Linked DNA regions of Homo sapiens. The protein of the gene in region 2 interacts with the protein of the main gene of each other region in a biochemical or structural test. Each region holds a gene or a part of one and is shown on either strand. Other genes may lie near its edges.

What was found.
Region 1: the proteins of USP4 (region 2) and RBL1 form a complex in vitro, tested with the Homo sapiens proteins (one study listed by BioGRID).
Region 3: the proteins of USP4 (region 2) and NLK form a complex in vitro, tested with the Homo sapiens proteins (one study listed by BioGRID).

What each region holds. Positions count from the first base shown.
Region 1 is NC_000020.11:37,064,846-37,068,499, reverse strand, and holds part of RBL1 (retinoblastoma-like protein 1), read left to right. Parts: intron 1-313; coding exon 314-514; intron 515-1,202; coding exon 1,203-1,267; intron 1,268-1,378; coding exon 1,379-1,507; intron 1,508-1,615; coding exon 1,616-1,776; intron 1,777-3,026; coding exon 3,027-3,076; intron 3,077-3,654. UniProt on the Homo sapiens protein: Key regulator of entry into cell division. Directly involved in heterochromatin formation by maintaining overall chromatin structure and, in particular, that of constitutive heterochromatin by stabilizing histone methylation.
Region 2 is NC_000003.12:49,326,415-49,330,068, reverse strand, and holds part of USP4 (ubiquitin carboxyl-terminal hydrolase 4), read left to right. Parts: intron 1-2,252; coding exon 2,253-2,383; intron 2,384-3,654.
Region 3 is NC_000017.11:28,168,052-28,171,705, forward strand, and holds part of NLK (serine/threonine-protein kinase NLK), read left to right. Parts: intron 1-396; coding exon 397-606; intron 607-3,654. UniProt on the Homo sapiens protein: Serine/threonine-protein kinase that regulates a number of transcription factors with key roles in cell fate determination. Positive effector of the non-canonical Wnt signaling pathway, acting downstream of WNT5A, MAP3K7/TAK1 and HIPK2.

The DNA.
Region 1 (3,654 bases), on a different chromosome or scaffold from region 2:
TTCTTTGTTCATGTAAGACAGTGTCTTGCTTTGTCACCCGGGCTGGAGTACATGATTGAGGCTAACTGCAGTCTCGACATCCTGGGCTCAAGCAATTCTCCCACCTCAGCCTCCCAAGTACCTGGGGCTACAGGCACATGCCACCACACCCAGCTAATTTTTTAAATTTTTGTAGAGATGGGGTCTTAACTATGTTGCCTGGGAAATCTGGCTTTTTAATAAAGAGTCTTAGTCATGAATAGAATATTTCCTTTCAATCCATTATTTAAATGAATTTTAAAGGTGCCTTTTTTCTCCTCCTTTTTTTTTTTAGTTTAATACAATTTTTTAGTAAAATGAAGAAATGGATGGACATGTCAAATCTACCACAAGAATTTCGTGAACGTATAGAAAGGCTAGAGAGAAATTTTGAGGTGTCTACTGTAATATTCAAAAAATATGAGCCAATTTTTTTAGATATATTTCAAAATCCATATGAAGAACCACCAAAGTTACCACGAAGCCGGAAGCAGAGGTGAGCCCTTAATCCTTATATAATTGACATAAAGATTATGATACAAACTAAGAGAATATACTTTTTTGAAAGTCTGTTTTTTATGAAAAGTATTCCTGCAAAGAACTTAATTATTTTCTTTTTAAATCCATGTACAATTATCCATATTTGGAAATTCAGGATAATACTTTTACTTATTTTTCTTTCTGTTGTTGTTTTTTTTTTTTTTTTTTTTTTTTTGAGGAGTCTCATTCTGTTGCCCAGGCTGGAGTGCAGTGTCCTGATCTCGGCTCACTGCAACCTCTGTCTCCCAGGTTCAAGCAATTCTCCTACCTTAGCCTCCTGAGTAGCTGGGATCACAGGTGTGCACCACCCCGTCTGGCTCATTTTTTGTATTTTTAGTAGAGACCAGGTCTCACCGTGTTGGCCAAGGTGGTCTCGAACTCCTAACCTCAGGTGATCTACCCACCTCGGCCTCCCAGAGTGCTGGGATTACAGGCATGAGCCACCACACCCAGCCCTATGTTCTGATTATTTTATGCAGGTTGGAAAGGCTTACTTAAGTCCATTTCATAAATAATAGATTACTTTTCTTCATGAATGGAATTTCATGTGTAATTTGATCTATTTGATATTTACATTTACTATTTCAGTTTACATGATATTTAGCGAGCTAGTCAGACAAAAAGTAATTTTTTTCCCTTTTTAGGAGGATTCCTTGCAGTGTTAAGGATCTGTTTAATTTCTGTTGGACACTTTTTGTTTATACTAAGGGTAAGATGACACTTTCAGTGGTCTTACATTTCTACTCTGGGAACTTGGTGCTATTTGACATGAGAGGTTTCTGGTTTTTGTGTCTTTTTTTTTTTTTTTTCCCTTATAAAGGTAATTTTCGGATGATTGGGGATGACTTAGTAAACTCTTATCATTTACTTCTATGCTGCTTGGATCTGATTTTTGCCAATGCGATTATGTGCCCAAATAGACAAGACTTGCTAAATCCATCATTTAAAGGTAAGACCTTTTATTTATTTTTGAAAACTGATTATCAGTTTTTGGAAAAAGATTTTTAAAAGTTGACTATTTTTTTTTCCCTCTGCCCTTCCTACACTGTCAAACTAGGTTTACCATCTGATTTTCATACTGCTGACTTTACGGCTTCTGAAGAGCCACCCTGCATCATTGCTGTACTGTGTGAACTGCATGATGGACTTCTCGTAGAAGCAAAAGGAATAAAGGAGCACTACTTTAAGCCATATATTTCAAAACTCTTTGACAGGAAGGTACTGTACTTATAATTAGATGACTGAGATGTTTACAGATCACCAGTAATGTGAAAAGAAAAAAATGTTTTAAGCAAGTTCTCAGCATTATAGAACTTAGGGTCAGGATTCCCAGGCTTTAGCCTCTACTGTGATTCAGAATTTCCTTATGATCTTGTGTGATGTGAGAAACAGAGCTGTTGAAAAATGTGACCAACTATATGTACTGTTGGGTAAATGTACTGTCAGAGGCAACCGTAGGAGGTACTGATAAAGAATTGTAAAGAATAGAACATCAGAGTAGGGCTGACAAATAATTAGGAAAAACAGGAGGTCAGAATAAGCTGACTAATTTACTGCCACAATTTGAATAACTGCTGACTGTTGACTAAAAGTAGGATGATGTATAACAACCACAGTTTTAATTCCATGTAAATCGAGCAGAAAATCCATGATAGTTTTGTAGCCACTTGTAGGCTATCTGTGTGCATTCTGGACATTGTCTCCTTGGTAATTAACTTAGCTATTTCTACATTTATGAATTGGCTTGTTCCTTTGGGTTTCAATTTCTTATTTCCCCAACGTCGAGCCATTAAATGTAGTTAAGCCTCAAGATTTCTCTTTGGTAAAAGGAGGGGTTTGGATTATGGATCCCACTTTTCAAATATTATGAGATTTTTCTTTAAGCATAAATTCTTCCCTTACTGGTTTCTTCTTCTTTTATACAAATTTTTGTATTCAGTCTTGTGTTCCTCAGATATCTATATTATGGCCCATTGTCTGTATGCTAAACATCTCTAGCAAAGTAAACTTTTTTTAAAGGATCCCAGGGACTGGGCGCGGTGGCTCACGCCTGTAATCCCAACACTTTGGGAGGCCAAGGCAGGTGGATTGCTTGAGCCCAAGAGTTCCAGACGAACCTGAGCAACATGGCAAAACCTTGTCTCTACAAACAATACAAAAATTAGTTGGGCATGGTGGTGCACAACTGTAGTCCCAGCTACTTGGCACGCTGAGGCTGCAGTGAGCCATGATTGTACCACTGCACTGCAGCCCTGGTGACAGAACAAAACCCTGTCTCAAAAAAAAAAAAAAGTTAAAAAAAAAAGTTATTTGCATGCTAAATAGTTTATCCTAGTCTGAAAGAAATATTTAATAATTCTGTTTTGTGTGTGTGTTATAACAATATGGAAATTTAGATAAATTTCACGTTTGTGTGTGTATTAATATGCTTAATTATATGGTGTCCCAAAATAATTTTTTGTTCACAGATATTAAAAGGAGAATGCCTCCTGGACCTTTCAAGTTTTACTGATAATAGGTAAATATCTAGTACTAATGGTGCCTGGCTTATCACAAGCTGTCATATTTGTTGATTTGTTGAAATTTGTTAAGCATAACAGTATATCAAAGTAAGACCTCCAAATTCAAGTTCTCTCTGCTTTAGTGGCATTGAATGTTTATTATCACTAAGACTTGTTGGCTTTAAATACATTTATTTTAAGAAATCAAGGCCAGGCACGGTGGCCCACACCTGTAAACCCATCACTTTGGAAGGCCAAGGCAGGCAGATTGCTTGAGCTCAGAAGGTTGGAGACCAGCCTGGGCAACATGGTGAAACCCTGTCTCTACAAAAAATACAAAAATCAGCCAGACGTAGTGGTGTGAGCCTGTGGTCCCAGCTACTTGGGAGGTTGAGGTTGGAGGATCGTTTGAATCTGGGAGGTTGTGGTTGCAGTGAGCCGTGATTGCACCACTGCACTTCAGTCTAGGTGACAGAGTGAGACCCTATTTCCAAAAAAAAAAAAAAAAAGAAAGAGGCCGGGCATGGTGGCTCACGCCTGTAATCCCAACACTTTGGGAGGCCAAGGCGGGCCGATCACTTGAGGTCAGGAGTTT
Region 2 (3,654 bases):
CTACCAGGTTCAAGTAATTCTCCTGCCTCAGCCTCCTGAGTAGCTGGGATACAGGTGCCCGTCCCTCCACCTGGCTAATTTTTGTATTTTTAGTAGAGACCAGGTTTCACCATGTTGGCCAGGCTGGTCTCAAACTTCTGACCTCAAGTGATCCTCCCGCCTCAGCCTGCCGAAGTGCTGGGATTACAGGCCTGAGCCAGCGTGCCTGATTTGATTTCAACTTTCAAGTCTTATTATTTAAGAAATACATTTTATAAGACTTTATCTGCCATAGATAGTGATTCTCCTGAAGGATCTGGGCAAATTAAATTGAAAACCTTTTGGAAAGGATTTACCATTCTAGATGCCATTAAGAATATTCATGATTCCACCTGGTGCAGTGGCTTATACCTATAATCCCAGGACTTTGGCAGGCTGAAGTAGGTGGATCCTTTGAACCCAGGAATTGGAGACTAGGGTGGGCAACTTGGCAAAACCCCATCCCTATAAAAAATACGAAAATTAGCTAGGCCTGGTGGCATGCACCTGTAGTTCTAGCTACTTGGGAGACTAAGGCAGGAGGATTGCTTGAGTCTGGGAGGTCGAAGCTGCAGTGAGCTGTAATCATGCCACTGCACTTCAGCCTGGGTGATAGAGTAAGGCCTGCCACTCCCACCTGCCCACACACACACACAAAAATATTCATGATTCATGGGAGGTCAAAATCAACATTAATAGGAGTCTGGAAGAAGTTCATTCCAACACTTACGGATGACTTCAACGGGCTCAAGACATCAGTGGGAGAAGTAACAGCAAAAGTGGAAATAGCAAGAGAACTAGAATTAGAAGTGAAGCCTGAAGATGTGACTGAATTGCTTTATTTTTTATTTTTACTTTTATTTTTATTTTTTTTGAGATGGAGTTTCGCTGTGTCACCCAGGCTGGAGTGCAGTGGCGCAATCTTGGCTCACTGCAACCTCCGCCTCCTGGGTTCAAACAATTCTCCTGCCTCAGCCTCCCAAGTAGCTGGGCTACAGGTGTGCACCACCATGCCCAGCTAATTTTTGTGTTTGTAGTAGAGACGGGGTTTCACTACCCTGGCCAGGCTGGTCTTGAACTCCTGACCTCATGATCTGCCCACCTCGGCCTCCGAAAGTGCTGGGATTACAGGTGTGAGCCACTGCGCCTGGCCTATTTTTAATTTTAATTTTTATTTATTTTTATTTCTTTTGAGACAGAGTCTTGCTCTGTCACCCAGGCTGGAGTACAGTGGGGTATCTCGGCTCACTGCAGTCTCCACCTCCTGGGTTCAAGCAATTCTTATGCCTCAGCCTCCCGAGTAGCTGGGACTACAGGCATGCATCACCATGCCCAGCTAATTTTTGTATTTTTACTAGAAATGGGGTTTCACCATGTTGGCCAGGCTGATCTTGAATTCCTGACCTCAAGTGATCTGCCTGCCTCAGCCTCCCAAAGTGCTGGAATTACAGGCATGAGCCAACATGCCCGGCCTGAATTGCTTTAATCTTATGATAAAACTTGAATGGCTGAGGAGTTGCTTCTTATGGGTGAGCAAAGAAAATGGTTTCTTGAGATGGAATCTATGTCTGGTGAAGATGTTATGAGCATTGTTGAAATGACAACAAAGGAACCCTGCCCTGAAAAAGGTGTGTAAACTAGTCGGAGGGATGGTGGGAAACCATAACCACCTCATGTATGATTTATTTATTTTTGAGATGGAGTCTTGCTCTTTCACCAGGCTGGAGTGCAGTGGCGTGATCTTGGCTTACTGCAACCTCTGCCTCCCGGGTTCAAGCAATTCTCCTGCCTCAGCCTCCCGAGTAGCTGGGACTACAGGTGCCCGCTACCACACCCGGCTAATTTTTATATTTTTAGTAGAGACGGGGTTTCACCATGTTGGCCAGGCTGCTCTCAAACTCCTGACCTCATGATCCAACCGCCTCAGCCTCCGAAAGTGCTGATTACAGGTGTGAGCCACCACACCCAGCCTGGAGTTTTTCTTTTTTATCCTCTTCTCTCCCTCCAATTATAGAAGAAATACAAATTCCTCATAAAATCTTCATGGATAAAGAGAAAACATGGATAAAGACAAAAGTCTGCTCTGTATAATGACCAGTGACAGAATTTTGGAATTTCATTCCTGTTTCTTTCTGTAAATAATTTTCTTATTTCTGAAAAGTACATGGAAATCATGTAAAACCATCATTTCTGGGGTAAAGAGCAGTGACTTATGTGCTCTTTTCCTTTTTTAGATCCTGAGAGTCAGACCTTGAAAGAACACTTAATTGATGAATTGGACTATGTATTGGTCCCTACCGAGGCGTGGAATAAACTACTAAACTGGTACGGCTGTGTAGAAGGCCAGCAACCCATCGTCAGAAAAGTGAGTTATGTGAATTGTCCCACCTGCTGGTCACTGTCTGCAGGTGCTTTCTGTTGGACACTGACTAGTGTTTGCTAGGAAAATGAACATACCTCAGTGGTTGAATAGTGGTGCTTGAGGCCTTGTTTCTGGATCTCTTTTTTTTTTGAGATGGAGTCTTGTGCACTTGTCGCCCAGGCTGGAGTGCAACGGCACGATCTCGGCTCACTGCAGCCTCTGGCTCCCAGGTTCAAGTGATTCTCGTGCCTCAGCCTCCTGAGTAGCTGGGATTACAGGCGCCTTTCACTACGCCTGGCCAATTTTTGTATTTTTAGTAGAGACGGGGTTTCGCCATGTTGGCCAGTCTGGTCTCAAACTCTTGACCTTGTGATCCGCCCGACTCGGCCCCCCAAAGTGGTGGGATTACAGGCGTGAGCCACTACGCCCAGCCTGTTTCTGGTTCTCTTTAGGAAATTGTGGTTGTGAGTGAAGTTGCTCACCCAGAATATTATCATGAGTGGCCTCTAAACATCAGAGCTGCCCAGTGGCTTGGAATGTGCCCAGCAGCGCTGTGAGAGAACTTTCTGGAAAATTCTATGAGAGAAAGTTCACTGGGGGCATATGGACATATAGCTAATGTCCTGCATCTTGTTTATCTTAAAAAACCTTTATGATACTGCTTTTCCCTCTATGCTTAAGAGTCTTTGAGCTAGGCGCAGTGGCTCACATCTGTAATCCCAGCACTTTGGGAGGTTGAGGCGGGTGGATCACGAGGTCAGGAGATCAAGACCACCCTGGCCAACATGGTGAAACCTCGTCTCTGCTAAAAATCCAAAAATTAACTGGGTGTGGTGGCACATACCTGTAGTCCCAGCTACTCGGGAGGCTGAGGCAGGAGAATTGCTTGAACCCAGGAGACGGAGGTTGCAGTAAGCCGAGATCACCCCACTGTACTGCAGCCTGGCAACAGAGTGAGACTCGGTTGCAAAAAAAAAAAAAGAGTCTTTGATCAGGCCGTGCATGGTGGCTCACGCCTGTAATCCCAGCACTTTGGGAGGCTGAGGCAGGCGGATCACGAGGTTAAGAGATCGAGACCATCCTGGCCAACATGGTGAAATCCTGTCTCTACTAAAAATACAAAAATTAGCTGGGCATGATGGTGGGCCCCTGTAGTCCCAGCTACTCGGGAGGCTGAGGCAGGAGAATCTCTTGAACCCAGGAGGTGCAGGTTGTAATGAGCTGAGATCGCACCACTGCACTCCAGGCTGCTGACGGAGGAAGACTCCATCTCA
Region 3 (3,654 bases), on a different chromosome or scaffold from region 2:
CAGTGGCTCACACCTGTAATCCCAGCACTTTGGGAGGCCAAGGCAGATGGATCACCTGAGGTCAGGAGTTTGAGACCAGCCTGGCCAATATGGTGAAACCCCTTCTCTACTAAATAATACAAAAAAAAAAAAAAATTAGCCAGGCGTGGTGGTAGGCACCTGTAGTCCCAGCTATTCGGGAGGCTGAGGCAGAAGAATCCCTTGAACCCAGGAAGCAGAGGTTGCAGTGAGCTGAGATTGTGCCACTGCACTCCAGCCTGGGTGACAGAGTGAGACTCCATCTCAAAAAAAAAAAAAAAAGTTTCAAAGTTCAGTGCCCTATCAAAATTTTGATGTTTTGTTTTACTCTTTCATTTGTATTTGCTTGATAATGTTTTGATTGCCTTTTCTGTCTAGATTTGTGATTTTGGATTGGCCAGAGTGGAAGAATTAGATGAATCCCGTCATATGACTCAGGAAGTTGTTACTCAGTATTATCGGGCTCCAGAAATCCTGATGGGCAGCCGTCATTACAGCAATGCTATTGACATCTGGTCTGTGGGATGTATCTTTGCAGAACTACTAGGACGAAGAATATTGTTTCAGGCACAGAGTCCCATTCAGCAGGTATGATTTCAATTTAAGGCTTTAGTTGCAATTCTATTGCAGATTTGAAGGAAAATCCATCTTGCACATGTGTCTTGGGCTTATTCATTATACTGTCTAATTTGCTTTTAGGAAATTCAGGTTCACTTAAAATTCAGAAAGTTATAAAGTTGAAGATTACAAAGAGATTCATTTTGTAACTTATGAGCCTTTAGAGGGAGTATTGAGTTTATTTATGTATTTATTTATTATTATTATTATTTTTTGAGACGGAGTTTTGCTCTTGTTGCCCAGGCTGGAGTGCAATGGTGCCATTTTGGCTCACTGCAACCTCCACCTGCCAGGTTCAAGCGATTCTCCTGCCTCAGCCTCCCAAGTAGCTGGGATTACAGGCACGCTCCACCACACCTGGCTAGTTTTTGTATTTTTAGTAGAGACAGGGTTTTGCTGTATTGGCCAGGCTGGTCTCGAACTCCTGACCTCAGGTGATCCACCTGCCTCAGCCTCCCAAAGTGCTGGGATTACAGGCATGAGCCACTGCACCCGGCCAGTTGACTTTATTATATGCACTGATGCATAGCTGTGAGCTCTGCTATGACAATTTGCACAGGTATAATCTTCAGTTGTTAGAAGGCCTCTCTTCCTTCTAAGTGAATGGCTCTGACTTGAAAATGTATTGGTGACTTAATGTACTTACACTTTGTGCTTAGAATATAAATTTTTAGTGTGTTGATTTCTTGAAATCTGAACATTTAGGAAAATTTCTAACCTTTATTATTGGACTAAAATATCTAAATATGGCAGAGAACATCAGGAGATGATTAAAATATAATTTCCTCAGAGAATCCTTTAGAAGCCATTCATGTTACTTGAATTGTCTTTAAAGCTAATTATTCACTAATACACATATTGACATAATTACTGGGTATTTTGTATTAATTTGCTTGCATGAAAATAATGTAGTAACTATGAGCTCAGGCTGTGAAATCAGATTGGTGGGTTCAAATCCTAGCTGCACCACTTATGTTAAATCTTGGGTAAGTTACTTAACCTCTGTGTTCCTTTTTTTTTGCTGCTTCTTCTTCTTTTTTTTTTTTTTTTTTGGCCCCTAAAACTGTTCTGAGGATTGTTGTACAATGAAGTAGGAAAGCTGAAAACGGGGCCTGGCACATAGTAAGCACTCTGTAAATGTTTGCAATTACGATGGTGGTAGTGTGCCAGGACTCTAGGGATACAGCAGTAAATAAGACAGCATTGTTCTTAACCTTTGTGAAACTTTTACATGAGACAAAAATAAATATGCAAATAAATATGATTCCAAGTAATGGAAGTTCCATAAAGAAAAATGTAGCCAGGTTAGGGACAGACAATGGTGGCAGAGCAGAGCAGGCACTAAAGGATTCTCTGAGGATATAACATTTCACCCACATAAAATAAGGCAGTAAGATGCTGGAGAAATGTTCCAAGAAGAGGGACAACCACCATAACAAAGCCCCTGAGGCAGGAACAAGCATGGCATGTTGGAGGGAAGGTATGTGATGGAAGACGCTGTAGGAAATGAGGTCAGAAAGTGAGAAAGAACCTGGCCATGGTGACATGATAAAGCCTTAAGATTTTATTCTAAGTGTGATAGAAAACTTAAATGAAGGTTTTGACCAAAGGAATACTAAGATTTGATTGATGACATTTTAAAAGATCACACTGACTACTGTGTCTTTGTAAATAATTAATGCACTTGACCAGACAGAATTATTTCTTTTATGCTTTTTCTACAAAGAATTTTTACCTAATATGTTAGAAACTATATCTGCTTTTATCAACATTTAAATTTTTCTATGCTATACGTTTTAACTGTCTTTTTTAAAGTTTACATCTTAAAAATTGATTCTGGTGTTAAAAAAATTATGTACATATAATACTTAATCTAATGTTGGGTACTTTTGACAATATTCACTTTTCAATTTCTTCAGAAAGTAAAGTTTAACAGACTTAACCTGTAAGACTATCATATCTGGACATAAGCTGTCATAAAATGGATGTGACTACTACCTTGCATACAGAAAAGCTTAAGTAAAAAATAATAAGGAAGTATTCAAATCCTATATATGGAACAAGAATCTTGAATTGCTGCTGCAAAAAATATGTGAGGGAAAGTGTGAAGCAACTGGACTGGAGTTCAGATATCCCTTTGCTAGAGAAATACATAGATCTTCAGTTTGGCAGTCTGACATAGCCACTGCAGGAGAATTCATGTCTGTCTAATTGTTGGTGTGTGTTGGGGTGAGAAATGAAGATCTAAAATAGGAAAAGGCTCTAACTTCTAATGGAAGTCATTATTTCCTGTTGTATTTTCTCTGTATCTTTGAGATTTAATTACCCTGGTACTAGCAGACATCATAAAAGTGTTTCTCATGTATGGATCTGACCCATTTTAGACAACTTTCTGAATGTTTCAGTTTGTTTTTATAAGCTAGTCATTTCCTTCTGCCTTTAGTGTGGTTGTTAGAGATCCAAAAGTATCACCTACACACTTTTCCCAAAAAGCTTTGTATAGAGATCTTTATTTCTGTGGAAAGCAAGCTTCTCAAGTATCTCCATTAACCTGTAGGGTGTTGATGCTGATGGCTACCCCATGGTTTAGATAAGTGCAGAAAATAGTGCTTTATATTCGGCAAGCCCAGAACCAGGAAAAGAAGTGTTCTCTAGGTAAGAATTTCCCATCCTGGAAGGATCCAAATGAAATGTTATTGCTAATTAGGTTATGAAGTTAGAACAATTGTGACACTACAGAAAATTGGTAAGATAGTTTGCTACCCAAAGACTTGTTTGCAAGAAGACTGTTTTATTGGTCTCTTTTATTGTGTCCAGCTAGCTAAATGTGGTCTTATGTGGTGTCATATTTTTCTAAGTGTCACAGTTTTCTGCCAGCGTAAGAGATTTCTAGCATGACTAGAATGTAAAGGATGTGTACTGGCCCAAGCATGGAGAGCTTAGCTTTCATTTCAGGTGTGAATATTTTCAGTATTTATTAAATCACAGGTGTCTGATTTGTGGATTAGCACCTTGGTG